Regions from separate parts of the Homo sapiens genome. Here all the other regions are linked to region 1. Evidence: fine-mapped expression QTL. A gene starts in region 1. Each other region holds a variant in brackets. All regions are shown on one strand. Distances are between the middles of the regions. Region 1 holds the start of RAPGEF3 (Rap guanine nucleotide exchange factor 3). Region 2 holds the start of ENDOU (endonuclease, poly(U) specific). Region 3 overlaps RPAP3 (RNA polymerase II associated protein 3). Region 4 has its middle 85 kb from the start of RPAP3. Region 5 has its middle 130 kb from the start of RPAP3.

Region 1 (6,411 bases):
ATAGGGTTGTTGTGACAATTCAGTCAGTGAATATATACAAAGTATCAAGAACAGGGCCTGGTGCATGTTGACTATTCTTATTATTATTTATCTGTCTTAACACACCTGCCAAGCATTTAATGACAGTCAGAGGAGGGTGGAGGCGGTACCAGGACATGGCATGATTGTTACCATCTTGCTTGCATGTGTTCCTCAGACACATTCCCAGTCCTCTGCCCCTTCTAGGCCTCAGCCTTGATCAAATATCTGCTGAGCAGTAATTCTACTGTCGGGTCCCCATCCAGGGATCCTGAGAAGGCAAAAACCTGCCCCGTCATCTGCTTTGATGGCAGGCTGGGGGCCTTGCCTGTTAGAGGTAGGACAAGCTAGAAATGGGACACATAAAAGATCTACTCCCTATGATCTCCCCAGGCTAGGAGCCAATAGGTAATCACCCCAGGTCCTCTTCTCAATCTCCCCAGAGAGGGGGAATGAAAAAGAAATGGAAAAAAGAAAGGCAAGAGTAGTGTTGAAGGGGAACATAGGTGGGGGAGTGGGTTGGGACAGTTTCATTTTCACCGATTTGAGTGATCCTTGGCTCCCTGAGGCTCCCCCACACCTCAACACAAACATATTCGATTTCCCCCCTGCCTTTTTTTTTTTTTTTTGAGATGGAGTTTCGCTCTGTCGCCCAGGCTGGAGTTCAGTGGCATGATCTTGACTCACTGCAACCTTCGCCTCCCGGGTTGAAAGAATTCTCCTGCCTCAGCCTCCTGAGTAGCTGGGATTCCAGGCGCACGCCACCACGCCTGGCTAATTTTTGTATTTTTAGTAGAGACAGGGTTTCACCATGTTGGTCAGGCTAGTCTTGAACTCCTGACCTCATGATTCACCCCCACCTCAGCCTCCCAAGGTGTTGGGATTACAGGCGTGAGCCATCGCACCCGGCCTCAATTTTCCTTTTTTGAGTAGACTCTCCTAGGCAGTCTAGTCTACATTAGAAGAATAGAATACATACAGAGTATACGCAGTATACCATGGTGAGTACGTGGAGACAGACAACCTGGATTCATGCCCCAGCTCCACCATTTACTAGCTGTGTGACTTTGGCAATTTCCTTAATATCCCTGAGCCTCAGTTTCCCCATCTGTGACGTGAGGATAACAGAAGTACATACCTCACAGGATCGTGGCAGGGATTAAACACATGGAAAGCACTTGAAAGAGTGCCCGCACATGATTAGATTTTGTAGCTCTGCTGAAATGTATACAAGTGTCCTGCCTCACTCCCCAGCATCTTCCACCTGCCCAGAGTAAGGGCAGCAAGAATAGGAAATAGGGGACCCCTTTGTGACCCAACTGCCAGTCTCAGGAAGCCTTCCTGCAAGAACTTCTAGGCCAGGGCACTGGCCCCAGCAACCCGAAACTCATGACTCCATCCCCCTAACTCTTCCCCATGCATACCTGTGACTCCCAACTTGTCATCCTTTCCTGTCAGTTTCCAGGTTGCTCTTCCTTCTTCCAAATTACCAGAACTCCGTTGAATGGATTTGGGTCTGAGGTCAGATTCATTCTCAGGCTTTCCTCCTTCCCCGGAGAGGCATTTAAAACTCCACCAGCGTTTCTTAATGTGTGGACACAGCAGATGACCTGGGGTGTTTGTTCCAAATACAGATTTTCCATTTCATGCCAATAGGATTGAATATGAATTGCTGGGGACGGAGCCTGCATTTTAGTAAGCTTCTGGGAAACATTTTTTATACATGTATACATTAAAAATGGGATTTTAATCACAATTAAAATTTCTCTCCCCACTTTCAAGAAAATAATAATTGGTGGAGGATGGGGGCTTGGCATCCCAAAATTGGGAGTATAGGCTTCTTAGAGCTACCTCTTCCCAGTCTTCTCCTCACTTTCAAGAAAATAATCATGGTGGAGGATGCGGGCTTGGCATCCCAAAATTGGGGTATAGGCTTTTTAGAGATACTTCTTCCCAGTCTGGGCTGGCTCAACAGCAAAGGGAAAAGGGAAGAGAAGGGGCAAAAAGTCCTAAAAAGCTGGGGGTGGGGCGTTCACCTCCTTCCAAACCCTCATTATCGTCCTGAATTACGGGTCGCTGTCCCCGGCCACTGTCTCTCCACCCTCTCAGGAGTGGGGCGAAGAGGCCCGCGCTGGGCCATTTGCACAGTGGTGGAAACTGAGGCCCAGGGAGGCGTGGAGCCTCGGTAGCAAGCCTGCCTAGCAGGGCGCTGGAATGCCCGGTCTCCGCCTCAACCTACCCGGCCACCAGGGAGCGCGCGGTAGGGGGCGTGGTACTCGAACACCTTCTGCTCCCCTGGAAGCTCTGCCACAACCCCAATCTCCTCTTAGGGCCCCTACCCGTTCTGGAGAGCAGTCCTTCCTCTCCAGCCTCAGTTTCCTCAACTGCTCCCGGTGTGTGTGTGCTGGGGCAGGGGGCAGTGGGGCGTGGGTCTGGGAACGGAACTGTGGGAGGCAAGGCAGCGGGATTCCCCGCGGGAAAGCCGCCTATTCCCTCCCCCGGGCGGCTGGAGACCCTGAACCGAAACAGGAGGCAGACACCCCCAGCCGGGAAGCGGCCCCAGCCCGGATTTCCCTCCCGGGTGAGGCCGCAGTGACTCACCCCCTCCCCGCTCTCCCCGGTTTCCTTGTTTGCATTTCTCCTCCCGGCCACGTGGCGGCCAGTGCAGCCACTCACCGCCGGATCCCTGACACCCCGGCCGTTGCGGCCTCCTCCACACACTTCGGGGCCGCTCCTGCCCCCTGGGGATACTCTGGGCTCAGGCGGATGTCCACTCTGGTACCCCCGGGTGCGGACTCCAAAGCCTGCCAGTGCCGGCCCCCTTCCCCTACGCATTCCTCTACCGTAAGGCAGGGCGCCTCCACCCCGCCCCCTCCGCCAGTCCTGGGGAGGGGAAGGGGGCGGGCAGCGCAGGGGGTGTGACAGCTCCCGCCCGGACCGGTGCCAGCGCAGCCTTGCTTCAGCGCCCGGTGCCAGCTGGCTCCTTCGTCTGAGACGAAGGCGCAGGCTCGGGGCTCCCTGTCGCCGGTGGCTGGGTGGCGTCCCCCCACCACGCCCCCACCCCTCTACTCACCCAAGAGGAGCCTCTCCACCGAGCCCTGCATCCTGCTGCCCTGGCAGCCAGTCCAGCTAGGCACTGGCCCAGTTCACTGTACCTGGACTTACCCACTGGCACCCTCCGGATCCCCTTATCAAAGCTGATGGGGGTCGCTGGGGACCCCCCAGCCTTTTGCTAGAGCCTGCACGGCTGTGCGAGCTTGAAAAGAAACATGAAGGTGGGTAAGGTGGGGTCAGGGTTGAGGAGGAGCAGGAGAGGGCGGGAGAGGAAGCTGACACGGTGGGGAGTTTGGGTGGGAGAGGGAGGGTTAGTCAGGGCTGAGGAGGAGAGGAGAAGGGTTTAAGCCGAAGCTGCATTTCTGGGAGACCTAGTGAATCTATAGCTTCATACTGGGAGGTAGTGGAGATCCCTGCAGGGGCATGGGCAGTGAGATGGGACAGAATTCCAAAGAGGACTAAGAAGGGCCTGATCTTTTCCAAGAGCCAGCTGGAGACCCCTAAGTGCGCCAGACCGGCAGGCCCCAGTGAAGGTCTTCCTGTTCCTCCCCCCAGCTCCTGGCAGGGTTGCAGCACCTCCGCCTGACCAGTCCAGAGGACTCTAAGGAAGTAGTTCTGCCTGGGGCAGTTGTACTGTGGCCCAGCCGCCCCAGTCGTGTCCCATGGCTGTCCACTTTCCTCCCCGTGTCACAGGTGGGCTGGCCAGGTGAGAGCTGCTGGCAGGTGGGCCTGGCTGTGGAGGATAGCCCAGCTCTGGGAGCACCGCGGGTGGGAGCCCTCCCTGACGTGGTGCCGGAGGGGACACTACTCAACATGGTGTTGAGAAGGATGCACCGGCCCCGAAGCTGCTCCTACCAGCTGCTGCTGGAGCACCAGCGTCCGAGCTGCATCCAGGGGCTGCGCTGGGTGAGTACCTTTCACCTGCCCAGGTGCCAGGGCCAGTACCAGAGCTAGAGGGGGGCCTAGATCATGGCTTGGCATGCTGCTGGTGGCCCAGCTTGCTCTGGGGGTGTACAGTGGTACAGCTGCCGTGGACACTGGGTCAGGAAGCTTGTCTGCAGTGTGCGTGGGTGGCTCACACAGCTGCAACGTGTGTGTGTCTGTGTGTGTGTTCTGCCCAAATGTCTCTGTTTGGGCATGGGGGGAAGGGGAAAGGGATTTGTTGTTTATCTGTCACCTCAGTGAGCCGGCATTGAGTTAGGTACTTGTGTGTTCTTTCCAGGTGGAGGTGGGAGGTATGGGGGCCGGGTCAATGGGTTGGAGTGAGGTAAGCTTGGTTACAGTTCTGGGTGCATCACCGTGGCAACATTCTCCTTTAGTGAGTTACTGAACTGTGCTAATTCTGCGTTTTGGTCTTAGGGTGAGGTGATCATGTGGACACTGCTTGGTACCTGCCTTTGGGGGGCTCAGGGAAGGATTCTGAGACATTTGGAGAATCTGAGATCACCAAAGTGCCCTTTGCTAGTGAGAAACATCTCTGGACCTGAAAGAATGAAGGAGAGAGCAGGGAGGGGAAAGAATGGTGGGATTTGGGAGGCAAGATAATGGCTGTACTATCCAAATCAGCAGAGAAGCTATCCCCAACCATCCAGACTAAATAGAGTAGCTTAGCTTGAGATTCAGTTATGTCTCCACTGCGTGTGTCCACCCAGGTTTCGCTATGTTGCCTAGGTAGGTCTTGAACTCCTAGGCCCAAGCAATCCACCTGCCTTGGCCTCCCAAAGTGCTGGTATTACAGGCGTGACCCACTGCGCTTGGCCGGGAGAGTTCATTTCTTTTTTCTTTTCTTTCTTTTTTTTTTTTTTAACCAGAGTCTTCCTCTGTCACCAGGCTGGAGTGCAGTGAAGCAATCTTGGCTCACTACAGCCTCTGCCTCCCAGGTTCAAGTGATTCTCCTGCCTCAGCTTCCTGAGTAGCTGGGGCTACAGGTGTGCGCCACCACGCCCAGCTAATTTTTGTATTTTTAGTAGAGATGGGGTTTCACCATATTGGCCAGGATGGTCTTGATCGCTTGACCTCGTGATCTGCCCACCTCGCCCTCCCAAAGCACTGGGATTACAAGCATGAGCCATTGCGCCTAGCCGAGAGTTCACTTCTTATTGGCAAGTCCTTTTGAGTGGAATAACCACCACCCTCTCCCTCCTTCCCCCTACCTTGCCCAACTGCCATTTACAGTGAGGCTGAGTTGAAAAAACTGAGACCTACCAAGATGAGGGGCTCCTCTTTGCAATCAGAATTGAGAGGAGAGTCCACATGTCAGTCCTGGTAGAGCTGTTCTCTACTAGGGTCTTCCTTATCATGAGCCTGGGTCCTCCTCCGCTACCCCTCTGGCTCTCCGGCTCTCCGCTCTCCGGGTCACTGGCTGTAGCTATTGCCTGGAGCCAGTGGGCTGGAACCCTCCCTCCCTCCTTCCCTCTTGGGCTATAATTATTTGTGCATTTCCTGTCCCCTTCCCAGCTTGTGGAAGCAAGGTAGGGGGTAGGGAGAAGGTCAGGTGCCAGGACAATAGGTCACTGGAGGATCTCCTGGGACCTGAAGTCTGGGAGGGAGTGGAGGAGGCCACCAAGCTGTCTCCTGACTCTCCACAGCCCCCAGAAATGAAGGGCTGGTGTGCAGGGGAAGGCCAGAAAGGTGGGGGTAAAGGTTGCTGGAGTGTAAATGGGGTCAAAGGCACCAAAACAAGGCCTTTCCGTGCCAGGTGGGCGTTGGTGACTAGAGGGAACTTAGATTTTTAGTGTTTAGAGGCAGGCGGCCACTCCCTCTTCTGATGACCAACTTTGGGGACTGGGGTGGGGAGGTTTCATTCCATCATGCCTATATTTGAGAGGCTCTGGGTACCTGTGAAGCTGTACTTCTTACCTCTTGATGATGCCTTTAGCCCAGGGAAGGCTTCCGTGAGGGAATGAGTGCCAGCTGTGAGCATGCACGCCCATGGTGAAGGGGTGGAGCCCGAGTCCCAGGAAGACAGCACTGCCAGTTATTGAGGCCAGACCTCCCTCTTCGAAAGCCAAGGGGAAAACCCATCAACCTCCCAGAGAAGAAGTCTGAAGACAGCTCTTTCTGTTCCTACCTAGACCAGGACAAGAGAAAATGAAAGCGGGTTACAGTAGGAGGGCTTGCAGTTAGATACAGACTAAGATAAGACTTAACAGCTATTGCAAAAGTGACACTGGAATGGGATGGAAGAACATCTTTGGAAAATAAGAGGGGGAGGTGAGATCTTGTCTGATGTCCGGGGGCAGGGGCAAGATCAGAGTGACCTGTGGTGGGTTCTACTAGCTCAGGGAAGTCTGAGATGATTCTCTTTGTGTGACTGTTCTTGGGGAAGTGGCCCTGTTT
Region 2 (6,411 bases), 35 kb after region 1:
ATTGCTTGAGCTGGGGAGATGGAGGTTGCAGTGAGCCGAGATCACACTGCTGCACTCCAGCCTGGGCGACAGAGAGAGAGATTCCATCTCAAAATATATACATACATTGCACTTCCTGTGTGAGCCCCTTGCAAAGTTTGCTTGCCCTAGGCTTGTCCTTCTCTCTACCCCTGAGTCCCTATGTTTGGACTCCTCTCTACACAGCAACAGGCTGGGGGATTCTCTTTAACCCACCAGCAACTGTTCAACCTGGCGCATGGGCAGGAAAACTCGAGATTAAAGTCTGAGAACCTGGAAGGGATTGTCAGATCCAACCCCATCATTTCAGATGAGAAAGCTGAAGACCAGCGAGAGGAAGAAACTTCTCCTGTTAAAGCACACTGGATGAAGACGTGCTCCACTCCCAACCTCCAGAAAAAAATCACTGATAGAGTGGCCTCCACTGTTCACCAATTTTGCCTTTTTATATGATAGTTTTCTTTCCTGAGAGGGTTGAGAATCCCCATGCAGTGCTCTTTCTGGCAAGGGCATCATACTTGGCAGATTTTACCTTTATTATCGGGGAAAACTGGACAGTCACGGGGAGCTGCTCCCCTTCTTTTGGACTTGGAAACAAAAGAACCTCACTGGGGAGGAGTTCCTGAGGAGAGGAGTGTAAGTTGGGGTGAAGGGAGTGAAACCCTGGGCTCCCAGGGGAAGAAGAGTGGGCCTTCGGCTGCCTTTAAGAGGCCTCTTGCCCCTCCCCTGCCTCATAAGGAATCTGAAACGTTTAAACCCCAGAGGCTGACTCAGTAAGAGTCATTTGCATAATATTTTAGAGTGATTTAGCCATGCGCTCGACATGTGGCTGATTTAGCTATGCTGGGCTTGGTGGTCATAAGAATAGCACTGGTTCTGACCGACACATCCTCTATCTCTCTGTCCAATGACCCCAACCCTTGCTTGGGCACTTACTGTTTGTCAAATTTGGACCAATCACCTTACTGTGTGCCAGTGTCATGCTAAGCTCCAGGAATTTGAAGATGAATCCAACCTGTGGCCCCTTGGAAAGTCAGGTCTGAGACTTGGAAGTAGGTGTCTGTTTGGTGGGGATCACCCAAAGATCAGCCCATGGGTGTCCCTAATTTGGACAAAGAACCCTCCAAACTGGACCCATCTTGGTGTGCCTGCCTGCATGACCTATTTTTTAAGCTGCAAACAGCTAGCATTACCTGTTCTCAACATCTGGCATTACCTACCTTCTTAGTCACCTTCCCTCAGGCTTCAAACAGCTGTAGGGCCCCACCTCCTATCCATCTAGGGTCCCTCCCTCCCCTTTTTCTTCCTGAAAGGATCTGGAGACACCAGCTCCACAAGTCCTGGTGTCTTTAAAAGGATCAGCTTGAGGAATAAGGCTCGTCTGAGAGCTGTGACATTCATCTGACTCTAGTGAAAGTCCAACAGCCACTCCCTTTTTGGCCTCCAACTGGGCACCATGAGGGCCTGCATCTCCCTGGTATTGGCCGTGCTGTGTGGCCTGGCCTGGGCTGGTAAGTCACTATCTGGCGGGCATGGGATTGCTGGTGGGGCGGGATCTTGCCTAAAGAAGCAGAGAGTTGGAGAACTTGGTAGAGGGCAGGGCCGTGGGACAAGGGAGGGTGAGCTCTGTCCTAAAGCCGCAGAGCACTTTTGGGTTGTCCTTGTCTGAGGGTGCAGGCGTTGGTCCCGGAATGGACTGGACTATGTGGAGAGAGTTGCAGGGCTGATGGTCTGATTTCATGGAATTCCCTTCTTGACACCTTGGAGGATCAGCCCCAAATATCCCTTAGTCCAGCCTGACTTTTGATCTCCCCAAGATTTTGTTGTCTGGGGCCACTGTAAGGAATAAAGCTAGGGCTGGTGTCCATGGGGTCTGAGTGGCCTGGCTGCCCTTGGTCACTCCTTCCACTGCCTGGTGACAGGTGAGGTTGTTTAGGGTGTGATGTTACTTTGGGTAGAGCCTTAGGAGGTGGGCAGGCTTAGGAGGAAACTGAAAGGACCTTTGACCAGGAGGTGGGCCTCGTCCTATCTGGGGCTGTACAGGGGTCAGAGGAATGGATCTCTGTTGCAGTGTTAGGAGAATTGAAGAATACAGAAGGGACCTGGCCCACAGTTATGAGAGGTCCAGGGGATGGGACTGGCAGAGGAACAGGACCATGTTCCTGTTTAGTAACTGTGCAAAATGCTGGTGCTGATGGGTTAATTGGTAGCTAGTGGGTGGGTGGGAAGGAGTGCCAAGGGAGGGGCTGAGCTGAGGAGTGTGGGGAGAATCCTCCTCTGCCCACAGGAGAAAGAATCCTTCCACTGGGTTGCTCCTGTGTAGGACTGTGGAAAGGATTAAATGAAATAATGTATGAGAAGCACCTGGTGCAAAGTGAGATCTCAGTGAACTGGAAATTCGCTATGATTATGACTATAAATTTTCTTGGGAGAAACTTCCGCTTGGGGTCATTTCCAACTGGGTTGTGGAAAGGAGACCCTTATGGGATTTCTAAGTGGAAAACCCCTGGAAGAGGAAGTTGTGCCTCCCAACCATGGATGAGATAGTGCATCTTACCAGAAACCAGCTCTGCCTGGGCCCTAGTGGGTGGAGAGGCAGTGGGAGAGCATGAGGGTGGGCCTGGGAGCCACCAGCCTCAGCCCTGTTGGTTGGGAGGAAGGTGGAACTTGGGGGCTTAATGTGTAGGGGTGGCCAGCGGGCTTGGCATAT[T/G]CCAGCCTTAGGGAAGGAGAGCAACTCTGGATATTTGGTCCCTGGGGGGCAGAGGTAGCAGTGGCTTTAGAAGTGCAGGTGGAGCTCTTGCTGCTAGGTCGGAGGGCAGTATCTGCTTTGGCTGTGGGATCGATGGGGAAGTGAGGTCAAGTGTATGAGGCTTCCTAAGGTGGCAGGGAAGAGGCTCTGCACTTGTTGATACTATCCCAACATCTCAGAACTGAGAGGCAAGAATATGAATCACATGGGGAATCACTGACAGCCTCAGGTCCTCCTTTATGAGCTGGATGTCTGTGGAGAACCTTGGTTGATTTTTTTGGTTGTGAATGGAGGCAGGAAGCTAGTCCAAGGGGTGAGGCTTCTTGGTTGACTAGGTCTCCATGGAAACAGCATCTGGGGCCTTCTAACGGTACAGATGTGTAGGATGTCCCAGTCATCAGAGGGGCTGAGCACCAGTGTACAGGGACACTGTGTCCACCCAGGCTTGGGACCAAGCTTCCTTGATGGCCAGTATGGATAGGGAGTGGCTGTTCTGGCATATTGAAGTCTTAGAAAGTGCAGAGAAATTGAGCATTTCTTGGGGGAATGGAGGGAGAATCTGAACCCGAGAGAGGAAAGGCTCAGATGAAGAAAGGCAGAGAGTCAGAGAGGTGAGGCAGAGGAACAAGAGGCACAGGTTACTACAGCAGTGATTCAGGCACCTGGCTTGGGGAGCAAGGCTTACTCAGAGTGTTGGTGTTAATGGTGCAGTGTGGGGATGCTGGAGTGAGTTGTTAGGGTGACTAGTTACTCATCAGAGTGTCCCCAGAATGTCACAGCAAAGTGCCTATGAGGAAAAGTTCCTCCCACCCCTGCACTCCACTGTCAAATCCCAAGGTCACCTTGAAGCAGACTAAGTGCACAGAGAAATGTGAGAAAGTGCTGGCATGGGGCTCTTGCTGGAGACAAAGTTCTTGAGCAGAGATGAAAAAGCCCACTCAGCTTGGGCCGGCGGGGGTGCTCTCCTGCACGTCCAGCTGACTGCTCGCTTGCAACCCTTCTCAACTGGTGCCAGCTGCTGGAATGAAGTGAATTCTTTCCCTGGACTCTGCTGATTTGGCCCATTAAAAACATTGCCCTGATTTGCCTGAATTCTCTCCCTTTGGATTCTGGGTGTACTGCCAGGCTGACTGAGCAGGGAGCTGATGGGCTGAAAATTTCTCCTTAAGGTCTTTGCATTCAGGCTCCAAGGGAGCATCATTTAACATTCAAGAGGAGTTCCTGCCGGCTTGAAGGAACAAGTGGCCTTGGGCCTGGTCTCTTTTAGGGACTGGAAACCTGCCTTCCTGCCCACCTTGGAGGCCTGACAATGTGAAGTTGTCTGAGGACCCGGGTTAACCTTGACCCAATGCCTCTCTGATGTAAAGAATACAGACCTGTAGTGATGAAGTCAGCCAGGAAACCAGCAACACAGATGTGCTGACAACCCAGCCCAAGGGATGGCCCTGTTGAAACCCTGGGAGAGTGTCAGCTAGATTAAGTGTGTCGACGGGGCCACAACACAGGGAAGACTGCTCCAGCCAGTCTGAACACTTGTCACTTGGAAGATGGGCATGAAATATTGCCACCGTTTATTCACCTAACAAATACTTCTATGGTACTACTATGTGTCACTTGCTGTCCTAAGTGCTTTACATATATTAACTCATTTAATTCTTACAAATATTCTATGAGATAGGCTCCATTATCATCCCACTTTTACAGATACGAAAACCAACGCACAGAAGTTCAAATAACTTGCCCAAGATCACATAGCTAGAAAGCAGTAGAACCAGAATTCCAGCCTCAAGCAGTTTGGCGCCAGAGTCTAGGTTCTTGACCTCTCTGCTATGCTGTCCCTCATTAGACAAAGTATCAACCTTAATCCCAGAATCCAATACTAGGGACTGGTAACCAAACCCAACCTCTAATATTTAAGCTCTAACCCACTCCAGGCTTAAATTAAGATACTACACCTGTATTGAATCATAACCAGAACCAAGCCCCCAAACAAAACAGGGATTATTCATCTTTTTCTCATCCTGACACATTCCTCAACCCCGAATGTCATCTTAAGTCTATTCCTATTCCTTACCCAAATATCAATACAAAATTGTTAATTTATCAACTAATTTAACTCAAGCCCAAATCCTAACTGTAGTTCTTAACCTAACTAACCCCAACCCTGGTCCAAATTAGGTTTCAGTTTCCTCACTGATACAAATTCTGATGCTGATGGTAACTCTGACTCTGATCTTGACATTCTCTGTAACCCACAGTATGACCTCTGAACCCAGCGTTCGTGAAATCCAAACCTCAGGAACCTCAAATCGAACAAAGACTCTGTTATCACCCTTAAAGCCCAGAGTGGATAGTGGGTTTCCACTGTTCCTTCAAAATGTCTTGTCTTATGTCCCTTGCGACCAAAAGCTTGCTTCTGCAAACCATTTGGCTGCAGTGGGGGATGTGGTCTGTGGTTACATAATAGAATGCTATGCCAGAGCCCAATTCTCACCCGCACCCGCCTCATTCCCCACCCTGAGCATAAATTCATCTGAATGTACTCCAAAGACGGGAAAGAACAGAAAGATGTGACACAGGGGGAAAGAGCGTGCAGAGAAGACCAGAAGGGGAGACAAGAGCAAAGAAGCAAATAACATAACAGGGATGGAATAAGAGCCAGCGGAGGGTCAGGGGCAGGGGACATCCCTGGGGCAGCATGACATGACAGGTGAAGGGGGCCTGTGGGCTACACCCAGTTCACAGACCTCTTTCTTTGGTGTGCTTAAAGTGTTACAAGGTTGGAAAATTTCACATAAAAATGAAGATTTATCTTGAAAAAAAAAGGGAAGGCTCTGGCAACACTGAGCACACATCCCAACATGGCCACAATCGGCTAGAGCTGAGCATCAGCTGCAAATTTCAGATGGAGCATTGCTCTCAAGTTTGTCACGGTCTCCATTTCTTCCTACTGCCTCATACCCTGCTTCTTTACTTGCTTATGTTATGGGCCTAACCCAAATAGGGATTTGGGTTTGTGATCCTGGTCTCTTTGATGAGCCTTGAAATATTTGGTGGGTGTTGGGTGGTGGGGAGGAGGCTTATGTTGTGCATGGGAGGCTGTGGATGTACTTCTCCTTTGCAGAGAGTAATGCCCTTCCCTGCCAGGTACACTCCTGCCCTGGTCTGTGAACCCTCCTGCAGGAGGCACCCTGGGGAGAACAGGGTCTCCATAGAGCTGAGTTGGTGACCTTTACTGCCCATAGGAAAAATAGAATCCTGTGCATCTCGATGTAATGAGAAATTTAACCGGGACGCTGCCTGCCAGTGTGACCGCCGGTGTCTCTGGCATGGGAACTGCTGTGAAGACTATGAACATCTGTGTACTGGTGAGCCTCCTTGTGAGACGAAGGCATGTCCAGCCTGTCTAAGGGGCCACTGGCCTGGGTGTCCAGCAGGCCAGAGCAGCGTTCAGGACTCACAGGGGCTCTAAGGGTCTGGACAGAAAGCACTGAGGGACAGAGGCAGGGTCAGGAATTTGGCCACCACTTTTCTCAGGTTTTCTAGGATGCCCCCAACTTAAAATACAGTAGATGTCATTTACCTAGAATTTCTGTCTGAAATATCAGTTTTAACAATATCTTGAAAGTTTAAGTACTAAATTC
Region 3 (6,411 bases), 96 kb after region 1:
TCTTTACAAAAAATACAAAAATGAGTTGGTTGCAGTGGCGTGCATCTGTAGTCCCAGCTACTAGGGGGGCTGAGGTGGGAGAATCGTTTCAGCACGGAAGGTTGAGGCTGCAGTGAGCCATGATTGTGGCACTGCGTTCCAACCTAGGCAACAGAGTGAGACTCTGTCTCAAATAAATAGTTAAATAAAAATAAAAAAATATATATTAAAATATATATATGTATATTTTAATAGCGAGGGTTTAAACCAAAAGTTTTGGTTTTAGCTTTAGTTAACCAGAAATGTTCCTTGAAATCCCTGAAAAATGTTACTGTTTCTTATTACTGTTTTGACCTCATCTTTTACCACTATTTTTTCAACCACTCTGCCCCATTATAGTGGTTTTATATAGCTTTTAATATACCAAACTGTCAGGCGGGTGCAGTGGCTCACGCCTGTAATTGCAGCACTTTGGGAGGCCGAGGCAGGTGGATCACCTGAAGTCAAGAGCTCAAGACCAGGCTGGCCAACATGATGCAACCCTGTCTCTACTAAAAATACAAAAAAAAAAAAAGAAAGAAAAAAATTAGCTGGGCGTGGTGGCAGACACCTGTAATCCCAGCTACTTGGGAGGCTCAGGCAGGAGAATCAATCGCTTGAATCCAGGAGGCATAGGTTGCAGTGAGCCGAGATTGCACCATTGCACTCCAGCCTGGGCAACAAGAGTGAAACTCTGTCTCAAAAAAAAAAAAAAAAAATTACCAAACTGCCAAACTTATTTTGGCCTCGAGGACTTTGGCTGTTCTCTCAACGTAGAATATCTTCCTACATATCTTCACTTGTGTGCTTCTTCATTTGGTTTTCACCTATCACCACTTCAAAGATGTCTTTCTTCACTGACCCCCCATGAACCTCTCTCTTCTTACCCTGCTTTATTTCTCTTCGTAATATATTACTAGCTGACAGTGGTTCATGTGTATGTTTATTATATCTCCCTCTCTAATAGAATGAAAGCTCCATGACAGCAGGAACTTTGTCTACCTCGTTCACTGGGCCTCAGTGCTAGCGCATAATAACCCCTCAGTGTCAGTGTGTTGAATGAATGAATTTACTGTTACTCTAATGTGATAAGTTCAAGGTATCCGAGAATGCAGGTGGGCTCTTCAGACTGGCTGACCAATAGTACTGTCTTGATGGGGTTTCCACTGTCTGCTAAGTTAAACATGGAAAGCGCTTAGAATGGTTCTGGCATGCAACCAGGTATTCAGTAAATACTTAGCTGTTGTTATATTTTATTATTGCCATTATCATTAATAACTGTTAGCTAGTTCTCCAGTTTTAATGTTGAGAAGCATGAACTATAAACAGTGTTTTCCTAATGTTGAGTGTCGACCGATCAGTGGTAGTAAATATGATTTTTTTGCGATTCATAATCTTATTTATTTATTTATTTATTTTTTGAGATGGAGTCTCGCTCTGTCGCCCAGGCTGGAGTGCAGTGGCTCGATCTCAGCTCACTGCAAGCTCCGCCTCCTGGGTTCACGCCATTCTCCTGCCTCAGCCTCCTGAGTAGCTGGGACTACAGGCGCCCGCCATCACTCGCGGCTAATTTTTTTGTATTTTTAGTAGAGACGGGGTTTCACCGTGTTAGCCAGGATGGTCTCGATCTCCTGACCTCATGATCCGCCTGCCTCGGCCTCCCAAAGTGCTGGGATTACAGGCGTGAACCACCACGCCTGGCCCATGATCTTATTTTTAACATGTAGTAGTTTTAATTTTGTAATATAAAAATATTTAACTGTCCCATCAAGTGTGATTTCATCAGTGTCATTGCTGTTTTTCATTTACAGTAGTGATGTAAAGTTTTCTTTTAAAATAAAATGATTTAGGTTTGAAAAA[CAG/G]TTTAGTTGAAATAAAAATATTAAGTAAATAAAAATACACTTGTTACACAGATAGGGTAAACATTTTTAAGGTAGTACAGAATGAATTAAGTTTAATCTGCAAGATTAATATCATTGAGAATGCAGGGCAAATTTTATACTGCTAAAGCAAAATATTCCTGAAAGAACCATTGTTGGATTGCTATATAATTTTGTGTTCTCAGATTGGCTTTTTAAATATCTGAATTAGAATTTATAAACCTATGTATTGCTTTAAAATGTAAAATGTTTTTGACAAATAGATTGCTCCTTTTAATTTACATTTTGCTTGGTTTTTAAAAAATGAGATTAAAATGGAGAATTTCTTTTTCTTTTTCAGTTGCACGTGCATTATTTAATCACATAGACAAGTCAGGATTGAAGGATAGTTCTGTCGAAGAACTCAAGAAAAGATACGGTGGTTGATTTCCATTTTTGCTGAAATAATTGTTTTTGACTTTCATATGTAAATTTTTTCTACTGAAAGTGTTTTGCTTTTTAAGAAAATGAAATTATATAGCAGGAAAGGACTATCTTTGAACATAAGTTAATTAACTATAAGGTGAATTGTGATTTAACTAGTGAGAATTGTATTCAAGTGAACTCTGTTTTTCTGAAAATAAAAATATAAACAATGAGATACATTTGTAAGGATCAGCATTTTATTTTATGAGTCATTTTAAATGTTAAATTTAGATACATTCTTCAGTGACCCATAAATGTAACATTATTTTTATATTTTCATGAGTTTTTGTAACCACTTGCCAAAGCTGCTTCATTAGCATATGAATAATTACCTTTGTAAAGAGGAAGTTAAATAGATAGTGAGATCCTTTCTTTATAAAACTTTTAAATGTTATTGTGCCAATTCACTAACATGAAGTTATTTAGTTGCAGGGTATGTATGTATTTTTAGTATTTATGTTGAAAGAAAGAAGACTTTTAACTAGACTTTCAAACTAGGTTAATTGAAGTATCACAGTATTCTTACATTTTAATGCCATAGGGTTTTTTCCCTTAAGATATCCATGTTACATACCAGTTAAGGACAGATAATCTAATGCAAGGTGTAAAAATGTAAAAATTAGTAATGTTTAAAGTACTAATTAGCATATAGCCCATATGTATTTGTTGGATGTGAGTGTAGCGTTTGTAAACTTTTGAAAGTAGGGCTAGAACTCTGCTCATCCCTGTACTCTGCATAGTACCTAGCACAGACGTTTGCACATAGTTAGGTGCTCAACTGATACTTATAAAATTTAATTGAATTTGACGCAAGAATCATATTAAGTAAATGTTTAAAGTAGCAGCCTAGCAAATTTTTGGGCATGGTGTAAGCACTGGTAAAACCAGTTAATTTTAGAGACTATCAAGTTGTTAAAAAATATTAGGACACCATCCTTTAATTGTTATCAGCATCAATAAGACAGTTCAGTTTACAATTTTATACGATATTGTGGTTAATTTTTATTGCCATTATACATATTACTATTCTTATGAATTGTTTGAGAAGTAATCATAATTTATTTACAAAGATAATTTCTTCAGATTGTGGTATAAATTATTGAGATATGTTTGTAATTTGGATAGTTTGAATGCTTTAAAATACACTTGATAGAGTTTATTAACTTTGTTTATTGCTAAATGTATTATGATATATAAACAGGCAATTGAATTTAGCTTTTTATCTGCTATGATCTGAATGTTTATATCCCCCACAAATTCATATGTTGAAATCCTAACCCTGAAGGCGATGGTCTTCGGAGGTGGGGCCTTTGGGAAGTGATTGGGTCAAGAGGGCAGGCCCTTGTAAAAGAGGCCCCAGAGAGCTTGTTCACCAATTACACCATGTAAGGACACATAAGAAGGCACCATCTACGAACAAGAAGGTGGGCCTTCACCAGACACCAGAGACCAGAATCTACTGGCATCTTCATCTTGGACTCCCCATCCTCCAGAACTGTAAGAAATAAATTTCTGTTTTTATTAATGTAAGCTACCCAGTTTGATATTTTATTATAGCAACCCGAATGGACTACGGTATGATCCTTTGAAGAAACTTACAAGGTAGTCAGGGCAGGTAATGTTATTGTCATTCTTAACATAAGAAAAGGAGGCTCAGAGGGTTAATGTTCTCTGCATGATTATAGAGCTAAAAATTGGCCAAAACAGTTCAGAACGTGCTGTCTTCTCTTAATGTAGAGCTATTTGAACTACTTCCAGCTGCAGTTTTTATGTTGTGTTACCTGTGTAGAGACTGTTAACTGAAGAAGTACAGATCACAAGATTTACTATAGAATTTGAATTTTAAAAAATTTCTGATGTTAGCCTGATTTCTCCCCAGAGACATTTTCATGTAGTGATTTAAGACCAGAGGCTCTGGATTCAGACTTCTTGAGTTTGAATTCTGGCTCCATCTGGCTTTAGGGCCTTGGACAAGTTACTTTTCTATTCTTTGTTTTTGAAATCTGTAGAATGGGTATAAGTGAGATTGAATGAATGCACACATTTTGTTTTTGGAGCAGGGCTGGATGTATAGTAAGCTACTGTTACTATTATTATTACAATTACCAACATTTCCTAAAAGTGATTAGAATAAAGAACAGTCTTTAGGGGCTGTCATATTGTTGCCTTATTGCAAAATAGCATAGTGGTTAATAAAGTCATTTTTGGGTCAAATAACCTGCGTATACAACCTATTGCACTCAACTAGCTTGTGAATTTGGACATACTGCTTAGCACCTCTAAGCTTCCGTTTCCTCTCATATAAAATAGAATATTAGTAAATGCCTACCTCAAAGATTTTTAGAAAGGCTAATACTTATAAGTATTAGCACATTAATGCCTGTCACATAGTGCTCAGTCATTTTTATTAATAATAGTAATATTATTGCCTTAAAGGTATAAAAGCAGTATTTTCCCAAGTGGTTTCTTTCTGGAAATGTAGTTATTTACTGTTAATTGTATCTTTTGACTTGATAGCAACATTTACATCATAATTATTCTTGAATTGTTGGCAGAAGCACCATGCCCGTCATTTATTGGCTGCCTCCGACTCTGGTTTTAGTTACACTCAATTTAATAAATTGATGGGGCATATCCAAGTCCTCACCATTTTAACAATTTGTGCTAACGCATTTGAAAAAAATTTTACTTCCAACCTCTAAATCCATTATCTCTGTTAACAGGAGGCATTTCTGAACACAGTACCAAGGCTCATTTTACCTTTTTACAATGCTTTCTTAATGTTTGACCTTTATCAGAGTTATGTTTAAAGAAACATTAAAAATTTAATGTTAATGAAACTTGTTTGATTCATTCATTTAATTAATTTAACAAATATTTGTTGAATCTACATATAATGCCAGGCACTGCTAGGCACTGAAAATACAAAAATGAACAAAGTAAACATGGATTCTTTCCTCACAAAACTTACAACGAAGTGGGAGGTGGAATGGGATGGTGGGGATACAAATAAAGAGGTACAGCGTAATAAATGCTAAACAGGTAATACTAAGGGATCATGGGAAATACCAGGAATAGCAGATGCAAAAGACAAGACAAGTTTGAGAAAACTTAAGTTTAATTTTTAGCACAGAGTGGGAACTGGATTGTGGTAAGAAATGAGGCTGGTGAAGACAGAAGGGTTGAGATTCTAGAGGACATTTGAACTTCATCCTGAGGGTACTGTGGAACTAGTGATAGTTTATATAGGAGGGTGATTCTGAAATTTGTATTTTATAAAATTTACTTTGGCTACTATGGGAAGAACAGTTGCCTGGGGACATTAGAGACAGGGGAACTTGTCAGAGGACTTGGGGTACCTAAGGCAAGAGATTATGGTATCCTGAACAAGAGTACTAGCCGTGAGGATGGAGAGAAGTGACCAGAATGGAGAAATATTTGGGAAGTAGAATGGGCAAGATTTGGCAGTAGATTCAGGGCCCCCACATTCAGGGCTTAACTCCAAGGAGCACCCTTTACATTGTGGTCTGCGTGAATGGCATCCCTGGAACATAATGTGAATGCTTCCTAACTTGTACAATTTGGTGATCCTGTGTGGGCTGGGAAGCAAGTTGAGAAGCAGAAGGAAGCATTAATGGTCATGCCCAGATTTTTTTCCCCTAGGGCAGTGCTTTCATTCACTAAAATATAAACCACAGCGGGTGACACCATATGTGGAACTGGAAGGTTTGGTTGAGTGGCTGAGAGAAAGGTCCAATTTGGGATCTGTTGGATTTGTGATCCCTTTGGTCATTGAAATAGATTAGGGATGGTGATTTGGGTTTGGACATTAAAAAGCATTTAGGTGAAGTCTCAGGATTAGATGAGATTACTTGGAAGTATAGAATCAGGAGAAAAGGGTGACTGGGTAAGTGGAACAGAACTAACAACCACATTTAACAGATTGGAAAAGGAGCACATAAAGCAGACTAGGGAGAGTGGGCACAGAGAGGGTGACGTTGGCAAAAAGCACGTGATGGAATTAAGTTTTTTGTTATTGATAATTTAA
Region 4 (6,411 bases), 140 kb after region 1:
TTGGGGTACAAAAAAAAAAACTTCCTGCAGCTAGCTCGGTGTCTGCTCAAGCAGCTGCCCAGTTTTGTGCTTGAAACCCAGGGTCCAGGTGGTATAGGCACACGAGGGAGTCTTCTTGTCTGTGGATTGCAAAAACTGTGGGAAAAGCCTAGTATCCAGGCCGAGCAGCACAGTCCCTCATGGCTTCCCTTGGCTGGGAAAGGGAGGCCCCCTGCTTCTTGCACTTCCTGGGTGAGGCGATGCCCCACCTTGCTTCTGCTTGCCCTCCGTGGGCTGCACCCATTGCCTAATCAGGCCCAGTGAGATGAACAGGGTATTTCAGTTGGAAATGCAGAAATCACCCACCTTCTGCATTGGTCGTGCTGGAAGCTGCAGGCTGGAGCTGTTCCTATTCGGCCATCTTGCCAGATCCCCTCACAACATTTATTAAAGTCAGCATGAATGTGAATCTGGCTGAAGAACTGTGAATAGAGTTTCTTTTCTGAGTTAATGAATTTTTTTTATCTCCAAGAGTCAATAATTATGTTTGGTCTGCCTAAGATTTGCACTTCCCAAGCTTTAGGTGGTTTTTCCTCTTCATTTGAATGAACTATGATAGCCTCTTCATTTGAATGAACTATGATAGCATCATATGGAAGTGGGGATAATGGCATGGTAAACTCATTCATAACCCCAGTTGGCTTGTACTGTATTTGGTAAAGACTTTCTTACTTTTTGCCAATATGACTACATGGCATAAAATCCCTTAGCTAGGAATTCTTTGCTGTGGATTAAACTTTAAATATTGCTTGGAAAGGAAACATAAAATTGATGTTATTGAATATTATTAATAACACCTTCATGAGAAATATTTTTTGTGAGTATCTTCTCTCTGTGCTATTTAATGTCCTTAGAGAACAAAGGGAGTGGGGCCTTTGGATTTGGGGAGAAGGATGGGAAGGAGGAGTGCTGAATAGATGCCAGAAGTGAGTTAGGTGCTCTGGTGCTTTATGCATTTTATCTTCTCAACACTATTCTCTTAATTTTACAGAATCTGGCTCACTGAGACACATAGAAGTTGAGTAGTTTGACTGAGGTTGCACTGCTAATTGTAGTAAAACTAATTCAAAAGCCAGATCTGCTTCCAACTTGGAGTGCCAGTGGAGGTGGGAGCATGGTAGGGAAAAAATGGAAAAGATATAAGGCAATTAAAGTTCATTGAGTTCCCAGTCACACTTTTTTTCAGAAACAGGGTCTTGCTTTGTCACCTAGGGTGGAGTGCAGTGGTGCCATCATAGCTCACTGCATCCTTGAACTTCTGGGTTCAAGCCATCCTCCTGCTTCAGCCTCCAGAATAGCTGGGACAACAGATGTACACCACAATGCTTGGCTAATTAAAAAAAAAATTTTTTTTTTTGGTAGTGCTGGGGTCTTGCTATGTTGCCTAGGTTCACAGTCACACTTTGGCCCTGAGACCTGTCTCTCTGGTCCAGGTGTTGTCTCTTTGACCTTATCGATGTGCTATCTCTCTGTGGCACTTGGAGGGATAGAAGCATTATCTAAACAGGCTGATAAAATTATTGGTAAAATAAGGAAGTGTCAGGCAACCATTTAAAATGGCCTGCATGCTTGCTTCCTATCATGAATCTGTGGCTTGGAGATCATCAGAAACTCATTTTTATCACATTGACATATCATAAGCACTATGAAGGAGGGCAAAACATGAGCCAGACAAACTGTGTTAGGTATAGACTGGCTTAAGCGTGTCATCCCTTGTCCCTGAGAAGGCTGGTGTGATTCTTTGCCAAGTTTCCTTCCTGTTCATGCTTGGATCCCTTGGAAGTAGCAAGCATGACTCTTCAGAATTTGTCACCCAGAAATGAGGGCTACAGTCCCCAGGGATATTGCCTCCTATGTGTTATATACATTTTGTTCTTCAGAGTTTGAAAAGGATCATGCACCCGGCCAAGCAAGGAAGCTATTGTGCAGATTTTGAGCAGGGACACACACACACACACACACACACACACAGCAATGGCATGACCATCTTCTACTCCTTATATGTAACATAATAAACTTTGACTTGCTGTTCACAGTTCTGCAGTATCTCTGGGGAGTCTAGCCACCCACTCAGTGTGCAGCAGAGGGGGAAGGAAGGACTCTGCATCTTGGGCTTTAGATCAGGTTCTTAGTCCTCTACAGGGTACATCATTCTGTAACTTTTTCTTTTGAGCTGAAAGCTGGGTATTGTTCACTCTTTCATTTCTTCATGCAGCAAACATTTTATTCAGTGACAATTAACATATACCTTGAACACATCACTAAGTGCTATAGATTCAGTGGTAAAGGAGACAACATTGGCTTACGGTTACACTGAAAATAAAACCTCATCTCCAGCATCAGGTGGAATATCCTCCTTGTTCATTTTGCTCCGGCCACATGAGCCTCTTTCTATTTCTTAAACATGGCTCAGGCCCTTGCCTGGGATTCTCTTTCCCCAGATCTTCACATGACTCTTTCTTTCTTAACTTGCAGGTTTCAGCTTAAATGTTATCTCCTAAGGAAGATCTTCCCCAGTCACTGAGGTTGAAGTCACACTCGCCCTCTCAGCCACACACCTGAACCTAGTCATTCTCTAGCCAGCATATCTGCTTATTTTATTGCAATCTTAGTATTTACCACTACCTGATTTATCTTTTTCATTGATTGGGTCACTTGTTTCTTGTCTGTTTTCCCATGTGCAGAATGTTAGCTTCTTACAAACAGCAACGTTGTCTGCTTACTGTACTCCTAACACTTAGAATAGCTTATAGTAGTCTATAGTAGTTGCTCAAAATATTTGTTGGATGGATGAATGAATGACACTTTTCCTGCCTTTGTACTTACAGTCTACAGAAGTGGTATAGCATCAGAGCTTAGACTTAAGAGTCA[GATGGCCAGGGGTT/T]TGAGTCAAGCAATGGGGCTAATGACTCAAAGTCCCCAAACTTCAGATTCATAATCTTTAAAAAGGGGATAATTATAGCGCCCACTTCACAGGGTTGATGTGAAGATTAAATGAGATAATTCATCTAAATTACTTGGCATTGGGTTTGCAACATAGTCAATGACAGTATATGTTGTGTTTTATTATTACTGGGAGTGAATTTAATGAGAATACAATAAAATGTAATAAATGGCATCACAGTACCAGAACAATCATACCCAAGTTTCCCTTGCCCTGAGTAGCTCTTGTCCACTTAGCTATAGCCTGAGAATCAGACTCTTCATTACAGTGGAGACAGCAGCCCTAGAGCAGTGAGCACCTGTGGCTAGGGATGCGATGGTGACTTTAATAATCTGATGTGGTGGAGAATCATTTTCTCTCTATTTTGAGTCCAGGTCATGTATTTGAAGTAACATCCTAGCCCTTCCATCTGCTGTCAGTTCTGATTTCATGCTTTTTTCTGCACACTCTGTCTACATTAAATCTCTACTGGGGAGCCCTCTGGCTTTTAGATCCTATTTTTAGAATAGTAGTTAAGACTTAGATCTCCAGAAAGGGAGGCCCCAGGGCTCCTGCTGTGGTCTTGAGTCCCCCCAGGCTCTGCCCGCTCTGCATACTCAGCCAGACCTGCATGGCTCTGAGGGTTACTGTTTTTTTTTTTTGCCTGCCACGGGGAAATTGTTCAACAAGACACCAATGGTGGCTTAATGCCAAGCACTGGTCCACCAGTAATGGTGGGACTTCCCCAACAGGCTCTGAAGCCAGAGTCCCAAAGTCAGCATTGAGTTTCTGCCGTTTATGCTTGTCTGGCTCTTTTTTGGATGAGTAGATAGATGCCCAACAGAGAATGACATGCAAATTAGAGTTGCAAGAGGGAAGAAGTGAACCTGGAAGCTCAGAGTCATGGACTGTGTTGAAGATATTGGGAAAGACCAGCTATCAACAGTCCTGGACCCTGTTGCTATTTTCAGTAACACTTGTTGGTAGGGTTGGGGGTGGAGAACTGAGGGTGCTTTTGTAGAGATCTTTCTTGCAGGGCTGGAGGGACCTGACAGGTGAGGAAGTATGGTGGGATCAAAGGATTGTGGCTTGGTTTTCTCTTGGAGCACTCATATTAGGATGTCCACTGCCACCCCTGAGCCTGGCTCCTAGGGTACAGGGATTAGGCTGTGAAAAACACAGGCCCATGAGTGGATATAAGCCCTTTCCTTTGCTTCCCCTCAGTCCAGCTTAGACAAGCTGGCAGTTTCAGGAGGACTTCACCAAATTCTAGGGGCAAATGTAAAATAAAGATATTAGAGGCAGAAAAGTTCAGCATACATGATCCAGGTCTCTGATGCCACCCTGGATAGCTCTCTCACCGGATTCCCAGACCTATGCCTATCTTCTGTGTCCTCCTGAGTGCCCCAATCCAGTTCCTACACTGCCTCCATGTGGAGGACAATTTCTGTCTTCCCTGATGCTGGAATCTGGTTTCCTAGATGTCAGCACTGATTTCCCGGACACTTAAGGTTCTTCAAGGTCAGGGCCAAGGAAAAATGCTAATTCTGCCTCTCACCTAGGGCCTTCCCCTCAGTTCTAGATTCTGGTCTGAATATGAGTTTTTCTCCAGCCACCCAAGAAGATGGTGTATTTCAGGTGAGACCCTTTCTCTACTTTGAGAAAGCAGCTTTGCTCTTAACAGGTCCAAGGATAAAGCGATAGATAAGAACGCCTATAAGAACTACCCACTTAAAGTTTTCAGAGGAATTCACTGACAGACGATGCTCCAATGGAGCAAATGTGAAGAGTGAAAGCCTAGAAAGTTTGGAAACCTTTCCCTCTTCTTCTCTGTCTTTCTCAGAGTATCTCTTTTTTGGCTTCATACATCATATTCGCACATGTAATGCATTTATTGATTGTCACTAATTATGCCCATGAGCTTTTATAAGCTTCTTAGCAAGTGAGTATCTTAATCTGCTTGGGCTACTGGACAAAAATACCATAAACTGGGTAGCTTATAAACAATAGAAACTTATTTCTGACAGTTCTGGAGCCTGGAAGTCCAGGATCAAGATGCCAGCAGATTCAGTGTCTGGTTCATAGACAGCCGTCTTCTCTGTGAGTCCTCACATGGTGGCAGGGGCAAAGGTGCTTACTGGGCACTAATTCCGTTCATGTGCCCAAGAGTGCTCCACCTTCATGACCTAATCTCCTCCAAATACCATCACATTACAGATTAGGAGGTAACATATGAATTTTGGCGGGACACAAACATTCAGTCCGTAGCAGTGGGCTTTCCACATTGTATAGCACGTGAGGAGTACCATCTTTCATTACAACAGGCGGAAACTTGTGGTGGTGGGTGTGGGTGAGGGCGGAAGGTATTTCTTCAACTGAAAGTTGAAGGGTTGTGCTGAACTGGATGTGAACCTTTTCACTCTTAAAGTCTTCTTTCATATCTCAGTGGGCCTGTTATTTTTCAATCAGACATTTGCATTTAATAAAGCATTTGCTTTCTCACTTTTTTTTTCCATTCAGGACCTGGTCAGGCATTCATTATTATGACACAACCAGTGTTACTGCATGGAGGTGGTACAATTCCAGTCCTAAGCAAAGAAACTTCTACATATTAATTAACCTATGCTCTGCTACCACATGTGATGTTTTCATGTTTAAAATAGCAATGTATCCTTCTTAGAGATCTAAAGGGATACCGAGTAAGGTGGTTGGCAGAGGAATTAGTTGATGTGAACTGAAATGGGTTGGTATGGGCTGCTGTAGTGGAGGGATGGTGGAGATATGAAGTCAACATTTATGGCAACAGTTGGGAATTTTGGAGAGGAACAAGGGAAGAAGGAAGGCATTGCAGGCAGGGTAATATGGTGGGCTTGTGACTGCCCATGCTGAGGAGCTTTGGAAGATGGAGGTAAAAACAGAATGGGCAGACTGGACATCTTCATGTGCCAAACCATGGAGACTAAACTATATTTTGTAGACAAGGGAGAGCTGCTGGAGGAATTTGAGCTAGGAAGTAATCTGATGAGCCTGGTTTCAGGAAACGGGTCTGGCTACGTAGGATGATTATATCAATTTTAGTTGCAGAAATGTATAGAGCAGTGTATTAAATGGAGAAACCATAACATATGATTTGTTGACAAAAGTATAACTCTTATATTGTGTTGTGTCAGGGGAATATGTTAAGATACTAATGAATTTTTTTCTCACCCAGAATTTCCTTCTGTCTCTTCTGCATTCAAGCAATTAGTTGGTCTTGTGCTTCTTACCCCAGGGAAGAGAGTGTGGTAGAGATGTATATATGTGGAAATCTTTCTGGTTTTTATCTTTGAAAGTCCAAACCCAAAGGAACAAGGAACAAATTCTGAAGAATGGATAAAAGTTTCTGCCAGAAACTGAAGAGAAGTATGATTTCTCAAAGACTAGAAAAAAAAGAAAAATATCCATCTTGT
Region 5 (6,411 bases), 180 kb after region 1:
CTGGTGGCATAAATCAGGGCTGTGTTCTGTGCCCCCTTTTTACACATTAAACATTAATAATTTGAAACTGACTTTGATTAATTTCTCCTGGCTATGGAAAAATAGGCAAATAAGTCTCCTTCTGTATACCAATATTAATTTCACAGCCTGGAAGTGGCCTCTGTGGGTGGTTCATCATGTGATGAGACCACTACCAGAACGATTAGTTTTAGATAAACGATTTTACAATTAAAATAATTATTGTGGTGGGTGTTCCCCAAATGTCACGGTCCTAAATTTAATAATTCCATTCAACCAGCTAATTTTTTTAGTTATTTAAAGCAACAGTATCCCAACTGTTTTAACCCATTCATGCCTGAGGTTGCAATTTTTTGAATTTTTGCAATCAGATCTTGGTGATAACCTTGAGCAGTAGGATATAAATAACTCCCACATGCTTAGAGCCTTCCATTGTTGGAATGCTAAGCATAAATTACCTACCTCATTAGTGAAAGGAAAGTGTCAATATGCTCTCCCAATCTATATGGATACATTAATAAATGATACACAGTGCTATTATATTAGTATATTATTTATATTATAAAGATACATAAAGTAGCAATTTAAATAAATGAGATAAAAATGAAATAAATGATTTTTCTTATTTTATTTATTAATAGAACAATATCACTCTATTATGATGATGAATATTCTGGCTGCTTCATTTTTAAAATCTCTTGCTAATCTTGATGGCTTCATGCTCTCATTAGCTAATATCATAGGCAAAATACACACTCAAAGCGAGGATCAAAATTAATAAGAGTGGAAGTAAATCCATATTTTAAATAGCTTTTTGTTAATTTCAGATTTGAGGTTAATTAGATTTGAGGTTGACTTTCTGTCAGATATGATCAGATCACTGTTTTCCTCATTAAGACGCTGATAAAAAGCTTGTCTGTTCTAAGAATTGGAGAAGTATGGCTCTGCCAGACAAGCTTTCTGTTTGCTTGAGCTTGTATTACTGATACTACCTTTAATCCTCTACATTCATGAGAGCTCATTTCATTAAAACTGGATGTTATATTTCATACATCCACTTAACTAGACCCTTCTGAATCTAATATGTGCCCATTTGGTGACAGTGAACAAAAATGTGCCAACCTTCTGCATAGGGAACTTCCACTTTTCCCTCAAGATACCCAGAGAACTGCAAGGGGCAACCTGGGCAGGTAACCATCTTGCAAGTTGAGCAGGTGGGGTGCCTCTGTGTCAACTGGAATATGTAAGCAGTATTGAAGTTTACCTTCTTTCATACTGTTGCATATAAATATAGGGATAACTTCTAATATTTTTCATGCATACTAGTCTCACATGGCCCTTGTGGTGTACTGACTCCATTTGGAGAAATATTTGTTACTAACTCATTCTGGGAAGTTCACTGGGAACCGGTGCTGCTCATGAATGGATGTCCCAAACTCTGGGCATCTACATAATACGGGCACAGGTTTGCTTCACCTATATACTATCTATACTTTTATCTACTTAATATTGGTAACTCTATGGACTTACTTTTAAAACTTAAATTTATTTAAAAAGGAAACACCACGTTCCTGACAGGGATGGAGAAATCCATACTATTTTCCTTCTTCTTCGTCCATGAACATCAGTTATTCTTACCATGGCCTGAACACAGTCCCTGCTGTTGACCTGTGGCTGAGCTCTCCTGACCTTGCAGCGGAGGTCAAACCGATTCTTGCACTGCCCACTGCAATACCCAGAAATAACCAGCACTCAGGAGGTGAGGTGACACCTTGGACAGGAAGGACGTTGGATTGGCACCTGCTGAAGAGCTTCTCAGCAGGTATTATGCTGATGGTTGGGAAGGTAGGTGTGTGCTGGCCAGCTTTGTACCAGCCCAGATCAGCTTGTGCACAACCTTTGGGAAACAGCTCTTTTTATTTTTATTTATTTATTTATTTTGAGATGGAGTATTGCTCTGTCACCCAGGCTGGAGTGCAGCGGCGCGATCTCGGCTCACTGCAACCTCCACCTCCTGGGTTCAAGCAATTCTCCTGCCTCAGCCTCCCGAGTAGCTGGGACTACAGGCGCCCGCCACCACGCCCAGCTAATTTTTTGTATTTTTAGTAGAGACGGGTTTTCACTGTGTTAGCCAGAATGGTCTCGATCTCCTGACCTTGTGATCCACCTGCCTCAGCCTCCCAATGTGCTGGGATTACAGGCGTGAGTCACCACGCCTGGTCTATTTTATTTCTAGGAAATATAGAGGCAAATATAAGACTCCAGTATAGTCATGATATTGCCCTTATGGCAACATTTGCATATTTGGGATAGTCCCTTACCACTCCTAGGCCTAGGCCTTGATTGTCTCCTTCCAATTATATTTTTCCTAGTTCTTGTTTATAGTATACTGTTATTTTTGTGTTTGTATTCTTGTGTCAAGCTATCTCAAAGCCTTGTAGAACAAGGCAAAGGATATAAATAAATAAAATATCTCACATGACCTTCTCTGCCCCACATGTCATTACTGGCTTCATCTCTAGTGAGCAGATTAAATCTGGTATTTTGTGAAGGACAGCTCCAAAACAGCTGTGTCAGTGACGTCTTGTTATATTAGATCTGCTTTATGATACTTCGTGATTTATGAAATGCTGCACAGAAACCATCTCATTTAATAAGCATGATAACCCTGTGAAAAGGGCAGACTCGAAGAATTTGGTAGATGTGTCAAAGTTCGGTTCTGAGCCCAAGTCTCAAGAACTCACACTTTCTGTTTCTCTCTCTCTTCTCATTCTCATTTTCTTCTCCCTCTTTCCTTATCTTTCTCTCTCTTATTCCCTTACT[T/G]TCCTCACTCTTCATCTTCTCCCCTCCTTTCCTCTCCCATCTCTTTTCTCTCTCTCCTCCTCCCCTGACCCCCGCTGCTGCTTCTCTGCTATTATGAGGACAATCCAGGACTAGCCGACTTGGGGCTGAGATAAACTGCATGAAGTAGAATCATGTTGTCACAGCGGAGGCCACTGGCCCCCTTGCAACTCATCAGCTGACCACAGATGGATGGCCAAGGCCCACTGAGATCAGTTGAGCCTGGCTCAGATCAGCAGACCCACCTAGCCACATATTTGTGAGAAATAGTAAGTAGTTATTATTTTAAGCCATTATGTTTTGGGGTGGTTCATTACACGGCAATTGCCACCTGATACAGAGACTCAGAGACTTAGGTTACGTGACAGAATTGGTGGCAGAGCTAGGAGTAGAGTCAGGCTGCTGCTTTTTTTTGTTTTTTAAATTTGTTTTAAATTTTTGTGGCTACATAGTAGGTGTATATATTTATGGGTACATGAGATGTTTTGATACAGGCATGTAATATGTAATAATCACATCGAGGAAAATGGGCTATCCATCCCCTAGGCTGCTGCTTATTCTTGGTCAAGGTGTTTGATACAATGCTCTGCTACTGAACTCATCTGCCTGTCTTCCCCTTGACCAGCTGACCTCTTGTCCTCTGAAAAGTAACCTCTGGTGCATTCTGTCCCTCAGGGAGTCGATTGTGGCTACATGGGTGGATGGATGAGCATTCTTCGGCAAAGAAGATCTATTTAAATTTTGTAAAATGAATCTCTTTTTTAGAAGAAATATCAAACAGTCTTTGGTTGTTCTGTAACTATCTGGCATCTCCATCTGCCTGTTTTTTACATAAAATTTTCATAAACCAAAATCAAATGTACTTTATTTGATTTTTCATCTTAGTAGCAGTAATATGAGACCCTACACATTATCATCCAGAGGTCATGAGATCCATCAGAGTAATTTCCCGACATTGTTTTGACTTTCTGGGAAGCCTGAGGGAATGTTTTGAGATGGATCTCCTTCCCACCCCACTTTGGCTTGATGCTTCACTTCTGATTATTGTGGTGCGAAGATCTAAACCTACGGCTTACACTAGGCTTGATTTCTAAGGTCACGTTCATCTGCAGGCTTTGTAAAATCTCCTAACAACATAGTAAGAAAGGTCACTTAACATAGGACAATTAACATGTTCCCTCCCTACGAATGAAGTTTGGTGTAAAAAGAAGCAAAAATAGTGCCAGAAATAAATTACTGGCTTATAAACATGTTTATTAAATGCATCATACTTGGAGCACCAGATGTGAGAAAGACAAAGGCTAAATGCCAGCAGCAGGGTTGCTTAGTAAATTATTTGGCTTGTTGCTGGTAATGAGAGGCTGTAGTTGGTGGGAGCTGCTGTGAAATTACATGTTTCTGCTGTTTTGTTCCTCAACGAACCATGATCGACTCTAGGAATTGTTTGGATAAGCTTTCCCTCTGGTGTTGAAAGAAAAAATAATTCTCTTTAAAAGAAAATCTTGCTAAGCCCAAATATTTTTTCTGAACTCACAATTTATTTAGGTCTTCATCAATAAAAGTGATTAATAAATAAATTTATCAAATATAATTTGATTGCCTTTAATTCTCCCCTTTCTTCATACCTTACAAAAAAAATACTGTTGATTTATGCTGAAGACTTAGACTATACAGAAAGTAGAACCTAGAAAGATGATACTGTCTGTTAGCATTTCCAAATCATATTTCTGCTGCAGAAATGGGCAAATCTTACAATAAGGCTGCTGATTTGATTAGGCAGACTAATAATTACACACCGTAGCAACACCCTCCTGCACAATCTCCTATTCACAGATAGGGCATTCTTCCTATTTCTTCTTTAGAAAAGTATTTTCTGGCTCAGTTGAGAAGAATAAGTCATTAAAAGCTCCAGGAAACAATTCTGTGTGGAGTGTCCATTTAAGCAAGCAGCTGTCCTTTGAAAATTGTCTTATTGTTTGAGCCTCCCAATTTTGCAGCCAGGAGGTTATATAAAATCAATTAAGCCAGAGGATCTCTAGGTAATCAGCTCTGAGAACTGTCGCCCCAGCTGCGATTATTTGCCAACGGTGGCAGCTTACTCCTTTATTCCTGTGTTGCTCGGCCCCCACTTTAGCCTTCACCTCCTGGCAGCACTGTGCCTCCCTACCCCCCGCCCCTCTCGGCTTCTTTCCTTCACCACTCCTGTTGGTGCAGCCCAGGCTGCTGTCTCCCTGGGTCTCACCCCAGCTCCTGCTTTCAAAGGATGCAAGGAAAATGCCCTGCTGGGTTAAGAGGTTGTGGCTTTCAGTTCCTTCTCACCAGCAGGTAGGAAGCTGGAAGGAGGTACCACAAATTGCAGCCGTTGCTATGGCAACCAGAGCTGCTCCTCAGAAAAGCTGTTCCAGAGGAAAAGCTCCTTGAGTCTTTTGATCTATCTTTCTGTGTCTTCCCCTTTCTTCAGCCCTTATGAGGCACCTCAAGTGATTATCTCTCCTAAGAACCCCATCTGCCTCCCCCGCCACAAGGAAGTCATTCCACAACATGAGGATTTGACAACAGAGGAGCCTTCCCGCACTACTCCCCACAGAGGCATTGTCCTTGAATAAGACATACTGCAATCAGAAGGACATGCCATATCAGAAAGTCTAATATTATAATTCTATGCATCATTTGGCTGGGTGGGGAAAGCATTTTGAGGGGTAGGGTAGGGTAGGGTAGAGAACTTGTTCATTCATTCATTGAGTGCTTATTGAATACTCACCAGGGAGTACCAGGCAAAATGCTAAGTACTGGGGTTTCAGAGACAAATATGGCAATGTTGCTACCTCACAGTCTGGTGGAGAGGCAGATATAAAGAGAAATGTTCACAATAAGGCATTGCACGTGTTTGATAAAAGTCTATCTGGGGCATCTAGGGCATAAGGGAGGGCATGTGTGGGCAGCTGGGAAAGCCACTTAATGGAAGTGTCATGAGAGAGAAAGGGTGTGTGGTAAGTGCACACATTACTTTGGAGGACTCTTAAATCTTCTCTTGAATCCAATATCTTAGCTTCATTTATGGCTAGTTGGGCAACACCTTGGAAGATCCAGAGAACCTTTGTGAAATATAATGTAAATATGAGGCAAAGGCTGCTGGTGGTCTCCCTCTTATGAGTCCCTGGAAGGTGGTGATGATAGCCCTGGAAGCAGGGCTGGTGGGACTGGGAATGGTGGGGGGTGGGGGGCATTCAGAGACGCTCATGGAAAGAAAGCCTTCGCTAAAACATTCAGCTAGACCTCGGGGAGGTGAGAAGGGGAATCACTGGAGGCCAGTGTGAGAGGAGCAGTCACAGAGCCCCTGGCTACAGAGCTCCTGGGTGTGTGGTGTTCAGGAGTTCAGGAACCTGCAACTGCGTGGGGACACTGATGGGAAAAGATCCACCTGACTATTATTAAGGGCATGTATGTAGTGTTACGGTTAACTGCAGGGCTTTGGATTCCAACAGATCTGAGTTTGTCTTGACTCTGCCACCAGTAACTGGAGACTCTGGACAAGTAGCAATCCTTCTGGGC

The links. PIP is the estimated chance that this variant, and not a neighbour inherited with it, causes the effect.
Region 2: its variant is fine-mapped to the expression of RAPGEF3 in whole blood (TOPMed, PIP above 0.99).
Region 3: its variant is fine-mapped to the expression of RAPGEF3 in whole blood (TOPMed, PIP above 0.99).
Region 4: its variant is fine-mapped to the expression of RAPGEF3 in whole blood (TOPMed, PIP above 0.99).
Region 5: its variant is fine-mapped to the expression of RAPGEF3 in whole blood (TOPMed, PIP above 0.99).

Annotation. Positions count from the first base shown.
Region 1 is chr12:47,755,433-47,761,843 of GRCh38, reverse strand. It overlaps RAPGEF3 (Rap guanine nucleotide exchange factor 3), which reads left to right and starts at 2,964. Exons shown (of 28, transcript NM_001098531.4): 1 at 2,964-3,293; 2 at 3,766-3,978. The coding sequence starts at 3,288. It also overlaps a transcript of SLC48A1 not described here. RefSeq lists enhancers at 2,416-3,084, 3,085-3,753, 5,967-6,036, 6,067-6,236 and a silencer at 2,795-3,144.
Region 2 is chr12:47,720,477-47,726,887 of GRCh38, reverse strand. It overlaps ENDOU (endonuclease, poly(U) specific), which reads left to right and starts at 1,398. Exons shown (of 10, transcript NM_001172439.2): 1 at 1,398-1,529; 2 at 6,013-6,135. The coding sequence starts at 1,475. All of the region lies in intron 3 of RPAP3-DT (RPAP3 divergent transcript), which reads right to left. RefSeq lists a silencer at 764-883. The variant T/G (reference allele first, on the strand shown) is at 2,729.
Region 3 is chr12:47,659,418-47,665,828 of GRCh38, reverse strand. RPAP3 (RNA polymerase II associated protein 3) reads left to right here. Exons shown (of 17, transcript NM_024604.3): 17 at 2,239-4,580. The coding sequence ends at 2,324. Among named protein-coding and RNA genes, the nearest start is that of RPAP3, 43 kb to the left of the region's middle. The variant CAG/G (reference allele first, on the strand shown) is at 1,879.
Region 4 is chr12:47,617,856-47,624,266 of GRCh38, reverse strand. No RefSeq gene overlaps it. Among named protein-coding and RNA genes, the nearest start is that of RPAP3, 85 kb to the left of the region's middle. The variant GATGGCCAGGGGTT/T (reference allele first, on the strand shown) is at 2,911.
Region 5 is chr12:47,575,195-47,581,605 of GRCh38, reverse strand. No RefSeq gene overlaps it. Among named protein-coding and RNA genes, the nearest start is that of RPAP3, 130 kb to the left of the region's middle. The variant T/G (reference allele first, on the strand shown) is at 2,842.